Linked DNA regions of Homo sapiens: region 2 is linked to region 1. A link means that fine-mapping ties the variant in region 1 to the expression of a gene that starts in the linked region. Tissue or cell type: whole blood. Region 1 holds a variant in brackets; the other region holds the start of a gene. All regions are shown on one strand. Distances are from middle to middle.

Region 1 (5,138 bases):
GTTTGTTAGTAGGAGAAACAGGGCAGAGAGGGGGAAGAACCTGCTTGGGGACATGTGGTCATGGATTGTACTGCAATGGGAGCCCTCTGACTCCCTGGCACAGGGACCCCCCTCTGCTGCACCCTCTTTCTGTGAAGCTTTTCAAGCCCCCATTAATGGCAGCTTCTTTCTCCCCTGTACCAGTGACCGGCTTCGCACAATGACCAACGTACTGGGGGACTCAATTGGAGCGGCCGTCATCGAGCACTTGTCTCAGCGGGAGCTGGAGCTTCAGGAAGCTGAGCTTACCCTCCCCAGCCTGGGGAAACCCTACAAGTCCCTCATGGCACAGGAGAAGGGGGCATCCCGGGGACGGGGAGGCAACGAGAGTGCTATGTGAGGGGCCTCCAGCTCTGCCCCCCCAGAGAGGAGGGAAGGGGGCTGGGGAGGGGAGTCCTGGTGACACATCTGTTGCCCAACTGACCGTGGGCTGAACACACGTTCTGCTTGACTCATTTAGGGGGGAGGGAAAAGTGAAATAAAGGAGCAGGAATGAAAGGTATATAAGGTCTCTGTTTCTCTCTGAGCATATGCTGAGGGCTTGAAGGACGGCGTGAGCAAGGGAGGGGAAGAAACGTTTCTCCTAGGTTTGGGGAGAAGGGAAGCTTCAGCTTCAACAAGAAGAGTGGTCAACTCATGTTTCTCACATTCTCAAAGAGTGGCGGAAGAAGAAGGTAAAGAAAAACCATTATTTCTCCTGATAAAACAATATCCATGGTCTCTGTGTCAGGGGTCCCCCAAGACCACCTTTAGGTTCAGCAATTCACTAGAAAGGCCCATAGAATTCAGGGTTGGGCGTGGTGGCTCCCGCCTGTAATCCCAGCACTTTGGAAGGCTGAGGCGGGCAGATCATGAGGTCAGGAGATCGAGACCAGCCTGGCCAACATGGGGAAACCCAGTCTCTACTAAAATACAAAAAATTAGCCAGGCGTGGTGGCAGGCGCCTGTAGTCTCAGCTACTCAGGAGGCTGAGGCAGGAGAATCACTTGAACCCGGGAGGCGGAGGTTGCAGTGAGCTGAGATTGGCGCCACTGCACTCCAGCCTGGTAACAGAGTGAGACTCTGTTTCAAAAAAAAGGAAAGACTCATAGAATTCAAGACAGGCGTGGTGATTCACACCTACAATCCCAGCACTTTCAGAGGCCAAGGCAGGAGGATTGCTTGAGTCCAGGAGTTTGAAACCAGTCTCAAAAAATAATAATAATAATAAAATAAAATAAAAAGACTCGTAGAACTCAGAAAAGCTATCATACTCACAGTTATGGTTTATTACAGTGAAGGGTAAAGATTAAAATCAGCAAAAGCAAAGGTGCATGGGACAGAGTCCAGGAGAGACCAGATGTGAGTTTTCAGTTCAGTAGAAATGCCCCTCGCAGGGCCGTTTTCAGTTCAGTAGAAAGCAATTATATCTCCCAGTAATGAGATATATATATATATATACACACACACACACACACACACAAGTATATATATACACGTATATATATACACACGTATATATACACACACACATATATATATACACTATATATACACGTATATATATACACACGTGTATATATATATACACACACGTGTATATATATATATATATATATGTATATATATATATATATATATATTTTTTTTTTTTCAGACAGAGTCTCTTTCTGTCACCCAGGCTTGAGTACAGTGGCAAGATCTCGGCTCACTGCAACCTTCACCTCTCAGGTTCAAGCAATTCTCCTGCCTCAGTCTCCAGAGTAGCTGAGATTATAGGTGCCCACCACCACGCCTGGCTAATTTTTGTATTTGTAGTAGAGACGGGAGTTTTGCCATGTTGGTCAGGCTGGTCTCAAACTCCTGACCTCAAGTGATCCGCAGCCCTGGCCTCCCAAAGTGCTGGGATTACGGGCGGATCACCTGAGGTCAGGAGTTCGAGACCAGCCTGGCCAACATGGTGAAACCCTGTCTCTACTGAAAATACAAAAATGAGCCGGGTGTGGTGGTGGCCACCTGTAATCCCAGCTACTCAGGAGGCTGAGACAGGAAGAATCGCTTGAACCCAGGAGGTGGAGGTTGCAGTGGGCTGAGATTGCGCCACTGC[A/G]CTCCTGCCTGAGCTACAGAGCCAGACCCCATCTCAAAAAAAAAGATAAATAAATCAAACAGAACAACAACAACAATAAAAAACCACTTTTGGACTGTTTTGTAATAACGGGTAGCTTAAATAAATTGTACAGCTGTACAAAAATGTTTTTTCTTTATATTCTTATTCTATATGGTTTTTTTTTTCTGTTTAAAAAATTTGTAACATACGCATTATCCTAGGCCTACACAGGGTCAGGATCATCAGTATTACTGTCTTCTACCTTCACATCTTGTCCCACTGGAAGGTCTTCAGGGGCAATACCACGCACGGAGTTGCCATCTCCTGTATTAACAATGCCTTCTTTTAGAATATCTTCTGAAGGACATGCTTGAGGCTGTTTTATGGTTAACTTTTTCTTTTAATAAGTAGAAGGAGTAACCTTTAAAATAGTGATAAAAAAGTATAATATAGTAAGTACACACATCAGTAACATAGTCGTTTATTTTCATTGTCAAGTATTCTGCACTATATACATAATTGTATGTGCTTGCCTTTTATACAGCAGGTGGAACAGTAGATTTGTTGACACAAACGTGTGAGTAATGTGTTGCATTCTGAAGTACAGTGACTATGAAGTCATTAGGCTGTAGAAAATTTTCAGCTCCGGGCCAGGCGCAGTGGCTCACACCTGTAATCCCAGCACTTTGGGAGGCCAAGGCAGGTGGATCATGAGGTCAAGAGTTGGAGAGCAGCCTGGCCAACACGGTGAAACCTCGTCTCTACTCAGAATACAAAAATTAGCCAAGCATGGTGGTGGGCATCTGTAATCCCAGCTATTCCGGAGGCTGAGGAAAGACAATTGCTTGAACCCAGGAGGCGGAGGTTGCAGTGAGCTGAGATTGTGCCACTGCACTCCAGCCTGGGCGACAGAGCAAGACTCTGTCTCGAAAAAAGAAAAAAAAAAAAAGAAAAGAAAATTTTCAGCTCCATTATAATCTTATGGGTTTACCATAATATATGTGGTCTGTCTTAGGCCAAAACATCATCATGTGGGGCATGACTGTATACCAATGCTGCTGGATAATGAAAAACAAATTCAGTAAAATAAGCTACTATATTATAGAAGTGACATTAAAATCAATGAGGGGGCCGGCCGTGGTGGCTCTCGCCTATAATCCCAGCACTTTTTGGGAGGCTGAGGCGGGTGGATCACCCGAGGTCAGGAGTTAGAGACCAGCCTGGCCAACATGGTGAAACCCCGTCTTTACTAAAAATACAACAATTAGCTGAGTGTGGTGGCGGGCGCCTGTAATCCCAGCTACTTGGGAGGCTGAGGCAGGAGAATCACTTGAACCCGGGAGGCAGAAGTTGCAGTGAGCTGAGATTGCGCCATTGCATTCCAGCCTGGGTGACAAGAGTGAAACTCCACCTCAAAAAAAAAAAAAAAAAAAAAAAAAAGAAAAGGAAAAAGAAAAAAAATCAATTTTTTGATTGAGGGAAGGAAGGACGTTAAAAATGGTACTTGGATAATTGGTTATTAATTGGGGAGCAAAATCAACTTAAATTCCTATCTTAACATCAACCACCATAATAGAATGAAGTTGGAGGAAAAATGTCAAATAGCAGCAGAATTCTAGAAAAAAAGATAGATTAACCCTCTGAGCAGAAATCCAGATGGAAGAAAGAGAAAAGAAGAGAACTGAGAAGATAACTGATGGACTCAAACATATTAAACAGCTGCAAGTAAAACAATAAAGATAATAAAAGATGAATGGAAAGCTGTGGAAATATTTAATAAATACATACATAAAAGAGATGTCTTTTATACACTCTCATGTTTGTTTCAGCACTATTCACAATAGCTAAGATTTGGAATCCAACTAAGTGTTCATCAACAGATGAATGGATAAAGAAAATGTGTTACATATACACAATGGAGCACTATTCAGTCATAAAAATTAATGAGAGATCCTATCATTTACAACAACATGGGTGGAGCTGGAGGATATGATGTTAAATGAAATAAGCTAGGCGGCCGGGCTTGGTGGCTCACGCCTATAATCCCAGCACTTTGGGAGGCAGAGGCGGGCAGATCACCTGAGGTCAGGAGTTCAAGACCAGCCTGGTCAATATGATGAAACCTGGTCTCTACGAAAAATAAAAAAATTAGCCGGACGTGGTGGTGGCTGCCTGTAATCCCAGCTACTCGGGAGGCTGAGGCAGATAGAATGGCTTGAACCCGGGAGGTGGGGGTTGCAGTGAGCCGAGATCGCACCATTGCACTCTAACCTGGGTGCCAAGAGCAAAAGTCCGTCTCAAAAAAAAAAAAGCAAAACCCAAACAACAACAACAAAAGAAATAAGCCAGGCACAGAAAAACACATTACATGTTCTCACTTGTATGTGGGAGCTAAAAAAAACTGAACTCATGGAAACAGAGTAGAATGATGGTTACCAGAAGCTAGGAGGGGCAGTAAGGAGGGAGGGAGGATAAAGAAGGGATAGTTAATGACTACAAAACTACAGTTAGAAGGAACAAAATCTAGTATTTGGTAGCACAACAGGGTGACTATAGTTAACAATAATTTATCGTATATTTCAAAATAACTAAAAAAGTGGAATTGGAATGTTAATAACGCAAAGAAATGATAAATACTTGAAGCGATAGATACCCCAATTACATTGATTTGATCAGTATATATTGTATGTGTAAAAATTTCATATGTGGCTGGGCGCGGTGGCTCACGCCTGTAATCCTAGCACTTTGGGAGGCTGAGGCGGGCGGATCACGAGGTCAGGAGATCGAGAACATCCTGGCTAACACAGTGAAACCCCGTTTCTACTAAAAATACAAAAAGTTAGCTGGGCGTGGTGGTGGGTGCCTGTAGTCCCAGCTACTCAGGAGGCTGAGGCAGGAGAATGGCGTGAACCCGGGAGGCGGAGCTTGCAGTGAGCCGAGATTGCGCCACTGCACTCCAGCCTGGGCGACAGAGCAAGACTCTGCCTCAAAAAAAAAAAAAAAAAAAAAAAAT
Region 2 (5,149 bases), 260 kb after region 1:
TCTGGAATGTTCTCTCAAGTTTCCTCCGCTACCCCACTCCACAGCTAGACCCCTTGTTTAGCTACGTACAACTCATCTTGAAGGTTCAAACATTTGTTCCTTTTCAGATGTGTTTCCTGACATCCTCCCCAAGTTCTCCTGTTCCACGTTCTCATATTGCCTTTGGCACTATTAATTTACCAATATTATTAGCTAGAATAAAGCCTCCACAGGGGCAAGCACTGTAACTATTTCAGTCCCACTGTTTCCCCATGTACAGGGTCCAATTCATTGAGGGCACCCCAGTGAAAATATGCCAAATAATCAACACTCCTCAAGAATGACTCAGTATAGCTAGCCTAAGAAGGAATATGCCCACGCACACACAAAACACAGTATGAGGCCAGGTATGGTTGCTCACGCCTATAATCCCAGCACTTTGGGAGGCCGAGGCGGGTGGATCACCTGAGGTCAGGAGTTCCAGACCAGCCTGGCCAACATGGTGAAACCCCGTCTCTACTAAAAATACAAAAATTAGCCGGGCATGGTGGCGGGCGCCTATAATCACAGCTGCCTGGGAAGCTGAGGCACGAGAATTGCTTGAACCCAGGAGGCAGAAGCTGCAGTGAGCCGAGATTGTGCCACTGCACTCCAGCCTGGGTGATGAAGTGAGACTCTGTCTCAAAAAAAAAAAAAAAAAAGACAATATGACACCATAAAAATCAAATATAAGAATAACTTAAAGTGCCTGTCTTTCATAAGACATAATCACACAAGTTTCAGGTACCTTTAAGAAACAATATTAATTCTTTTTAAAAAGGCAAGGCAAGCGCATATATTCTTTGTGGAAACAAACACCTCACTCGTAAAACTGAAATCTGATGCATGATTTTCCTCTGGAGTTAATTTTTTCCTGATTTCTCAGTAGACACGAGCTTTAACCCCATTATTAAAAAAGACATCCCACTTATGGCCAACTCAATTTGAATTTCCAGTATTAACAAAGTTTATATCGTCTTTTCCCTGAAGTTCCATTAGTTTTGAAGCTCTGTGATTCACATGCTTGGGGGAAGGACTGGAGCCAACTTGAAAAGATCTGAATAACAGTCTTAGGTTTTCTTGATAATAATATTTGTGAAATAACTGAGAAACGGCTTTTCTTAACCTAACAGTGAGAAACTTGATGCCCACAGCAGAAGTAAAAGTCGTCTCAAACATAGAAAATAAAGAAAAACAAAAACAAAAAAAATTAAGAACTCCTCCTTTTGTTGTTGTTTTTGTTTTTGAGATGGAGTCTTGCTCTGTCACCCAGGCTGGAGTGCAGTGGCACAATCTCAGCTCACTGCAACCTCCGCCTCTGGGGTTCAAGCGATTCTCCTGCCTCAGCCTCCCGAGTAGTTGGGATTACAGGCGCCCACCACTACGCTCGGCTAATTTGTGTATTTTTAGTAAAGACAGGGTTTCACCATGTTGGCCAGGCTGGTCTCAAACTCCTGACCTCAGGTGATCCACCCGCCTCGGCCTCCCAAAGTGCTGGGATTATAGGAGTGAGCCACCAAGCCTGGCCAAAAGCTTTCTTATGAGAAAGAAAAAAAAGAAGAAAGAAAAAGTTATGGAAAAGGAAGAGATGCAAAGCCAAGCTAACAGATATTAAGCTAAAAGACTTCAAATTGTCAGTCTCCAAAAGAAATCTCTCGTCATCTAATTCATTCCTTAATGGAGGATGCATTCAATTTTTTAAGTAAATTTGGCCAATCAATTAAACCAGTTTGCACATGTGGACCCAGACCTCACTTTCCAGTTGCAAAGCTAGATAATATTAAGTATCATATCAAATAAAACGTGAATTACTAATTCGCAGTTATCTTGCATACTGTAGGCAAGGTAGGGCCGTCTTTATGCACTTTCCCTAAAAATTGGGAAGGACAGGTGAGAGCTGGGGCCGGTGTCACCACATTTCTGAGCTGTGGGACCTGGACTGTTTGGGATTTCCCTTTTGACAGGATGACAGCCCTGTCTGCCCGGACGGGGGGTACCTGAGAGCGAGAGACCGGGCGGCGGGCGCCCAGATGCGAGGCCCTGACTGTGTGGGCCTCACGCCGGCCACCGGCTGATCGCAGGGAGGAAACCCCTCACACAGGCGGAGCTGTTCTAGGCCCTCCAGTCCCTCCCCGCGCCAGCCGAGCCCTCCCCGCCCTCCCCGCCCTCCCGAGGGGCCGGGCCACACCTGCAAGCCAGCCGGAGACACTCCCACCGTGCCGTGCCGCACCGCGCCGCGCCGCGCAGCACAGCTCAGCCGCCGTCGGCCGCCGCCGCGCGCACTTCCGCTTCCGGTCTCGGGGCCGCCGGGAACGGAAGTGGCTGTGGCTCAGGCTGTTGTGGCCAGGGTAGCCTTAGGCGGCGGCAGAGAAACTAACGTCTTCTTTAGCCTCCAAGGAGAAATTCTAGTATTCTTACCCGGGGGATGAGGTTAGGCTCTGGAGTGGGGTCCCACAGAGCATGGAGGGTGGTGCTGGGGGCGGAGCCTATGTCCGAGAGACAGGGATAGGGGTGGGGCTTAGGTCCCGGGGCAAAAGTGGGGCGGGGCCTGTGCGCGGGGGCGGGGTGGAGTGTGGCTTGCCCTCCGATGGCTGATGGGCGGGGCTTGCACCCCAATGGCGGAGTGGGCGGGGCCTTGGTTTGCAGGGTGGTAGTAGGGGCGGGTCGTGCGCCTCAGGGGCAAAAATGGGGCGGGGCTTGTGCTTGGGGTGGGAATGGGAGCTGAACTTGCATTCGGAAGGCGGGATGAGGGGACCTGGGCTTCAAGGGTTGAGAGGGGCACACCCGACCCCTCCCCGGGTCTCTTTAGGGATGCTCAATATTTAACTTACCCTTTTCTCCTTCCTTTTCCCCAACCCCTTCCACCTTTATCCATGGGCTTAATCCAATCCCCTACAAAAATATACCCATACTTAAGATTGTTTTTGTATATTTTTATACGGCTGACCCTTAGGCAACGGGAGTTGGGGCGCCACCCTGTGCAGTGGAAAATTCACTTCTTTTGACTCCCCCAAAACCTACCTACTAATAGACTACTGTTAACCAGAAGCTTTACCAATAACATAAAGTTAGTTAACACATATTTTGTATATTATATGCCATATTCTTAAAATAAACTAAGCTCAGAGAAAAGAAAGTGTTATTAAGAAAATCATGAAGAAGAGAAAATATATTTACTCTTCGTTACGTGGAAGTGATCGTAAAGATCATAAATAAACGTCTTCATCGTCAGCTTCACCCTGAGTAGGCTGAGGAAAGGGAGGGGTTTGTCTTGCTGTCCCAAGGAGGACAAAGGTAGAAAAAAATCTACCTATAAGGGGATAGCCACAGTTCAAACCCTTGGTGTTCACGGGTCAACTAACTGTCTTTATTCTAAAAATAGGACGATGTATTTTTGTTTCTTCTACAGCTTGCCCTTCTCACTAAAAATAAGATGTGTGAATCTAAGACATAGATCTGACTTTTTAAAAACTATTTATTATGTAGTATACATAGTACATACCTATGGGAAAAGTTCAAACGGGAGGCTCACTCTATTCCTAAATTTTCCTCCCCTGAAACAACCACTGTCACTAGTTCCCTGGTATTCTTTATATATCAAGCACATGTGCAGTCATGCACCACATAACAAGGTTTTGGTCAACCACGAAACACATACACAGTTGTGATCCCATAAGGTTATAATGGAGCTGAAAATTTCTTATCACCTAGTGATGTTGTAACTGTCACAATGTTGCAGTGCAACACATTACTCACATTTAAAAAGGTTTTAAAAATATGAAAAGACCGGGCGCGGTGGCTTACGCCTGCAATCCCAAGACTTTGGAGGCCGACGCTGGTGGATCACTTGAGGTCAGGAGTTCGAGACCAGCCTGGCCAACATGATGAAACCCCCAGTCTCTACTAGTAATACAAAAATTAGCTGGGCATGGTGGCATGCGCCTGTAATCCCAGCTATTCGGGAGGCTGAGGCAGGAGAATTGCTTGAACCCAGGAGGTGGAGGGTGCAGTGACCCAAGGTCTTGCCATTGCACTCCAGCCTGTGCAACAAGAGCAAAACTCCATCTCAAAAAAAAAAATGAAAAATAGCTTATAGAATAAGGATATAAAGAAAGAAAATACCTTTATGCAGTACAATTTATCTGTGTTTTAAGCTAAATGTTCTTACAAAGAAGTTGGGCCGGGCGGGGTGGCTCATGCATGTAATCACAGCACACTTTGGGAGGCCAAGGCAGGAGGATCGCTTGAGTCCAGGAGTTCCAGATGACCAGCCTGGGCCACATAGCAAGACACTGTCTCTAAAAATAAAAATAAAAGAAATGTATCATTTAAAAAACAAAATGTACAAAGGTTCAGTTATTTCAGATAAATAAGTTTTGGAGATCTAATGTACAGCATGGTGACTGTAGTTAACAGGAACATATTATGTACTTGAAATGTGCTAAGAGGGTAGGTCTTACGTGTTCTTACCACCAAAAAAAAAAAAGCAAATATGTGAGGCGATGGATGTGCTAATTGCTTCATTATTTCACTGTATGTATATCAAAACATCAAGTTGTACACCTTAAATATATACAATTTTTATTTGTCAACTATAACTCAACAAAGCCAGGAGTAAGAAAGGAGTCAGTGGCCAAGCATGGTGGCTCACGCCTGTAATCCCAGCACTTTGGGAGGCTGAGGCAGGTGGATCACCTGAGGTCAGGAGTTCAAGACCAGCCTGGCCAACATGGTGAAACCCCGTCTCTATTAAAAATACAAAAATTAGCCGGGCATGATGGCAGGCGCCTGTAATCCCAGCTACCCGGGAGGGTGATGCAGGAGAATCACTTGAACCTGGGAAGCAGATGTTGCAGTGAGCCGAGATCGCACCATTGCAATCCAGCCTGGGCAATAGAGCTAGACTCCGTTTCAAAAAAAAAGAAGTGAGAACATCCAGTATTTGGTCTGCTGTTCCTGTGTTAGTTTGCTAAGGATAATGGCCTCCAGTGCATCCATGTCCCTGCAAATAACATGAGCTGATTCTTTTTTACATCTGCATAGTGTTCTATGGTGTGCATGTACATTTTCTTTATATCGCCTGCTATTGATGGGCATTTAGGTTAGTTCCGCATCTTTGCTATTGTGAGTA

The links. PIP is the estimated chance that this variant, and not a neighbour inherited with it, causes the effect.
Region 2: it holds the start of ZNF333, and the variant in region 1 is fine-mapped to the expression of ZNF333 in whole blood (TOPMed, PIP above 0.99).

What each region holds. Positions count from the first base shown.
Region 1 is chr19:14,945,436-14,950,573 of GRCh38, reverse strand. It overlaps SLC1A6 (solute carrier family 1 member 6), which reads left to right. Exons shown (of 10, transcript NM_005071.3): 10 at 184-541. The coding sequence ends at 379. Among named protein-coding and RNA genes, the nearest start is that of OR7C2, 6.5 kb to the right of the region's middle. The variant A/G (reference allele first, on the strand shown) is at 2,126.
Region 2 is chr19:14,687,208-14,692,356 of GRCh38, reverse strand. ZNF333 (zinc finger protein 333) reads right to left here and starts at 2,309. Exons shown (of 12, transcript NM_032433.4): 1 at 2,207-2,309. RefSeq lists silencers at 1,966-2,335, 2,666-2,715.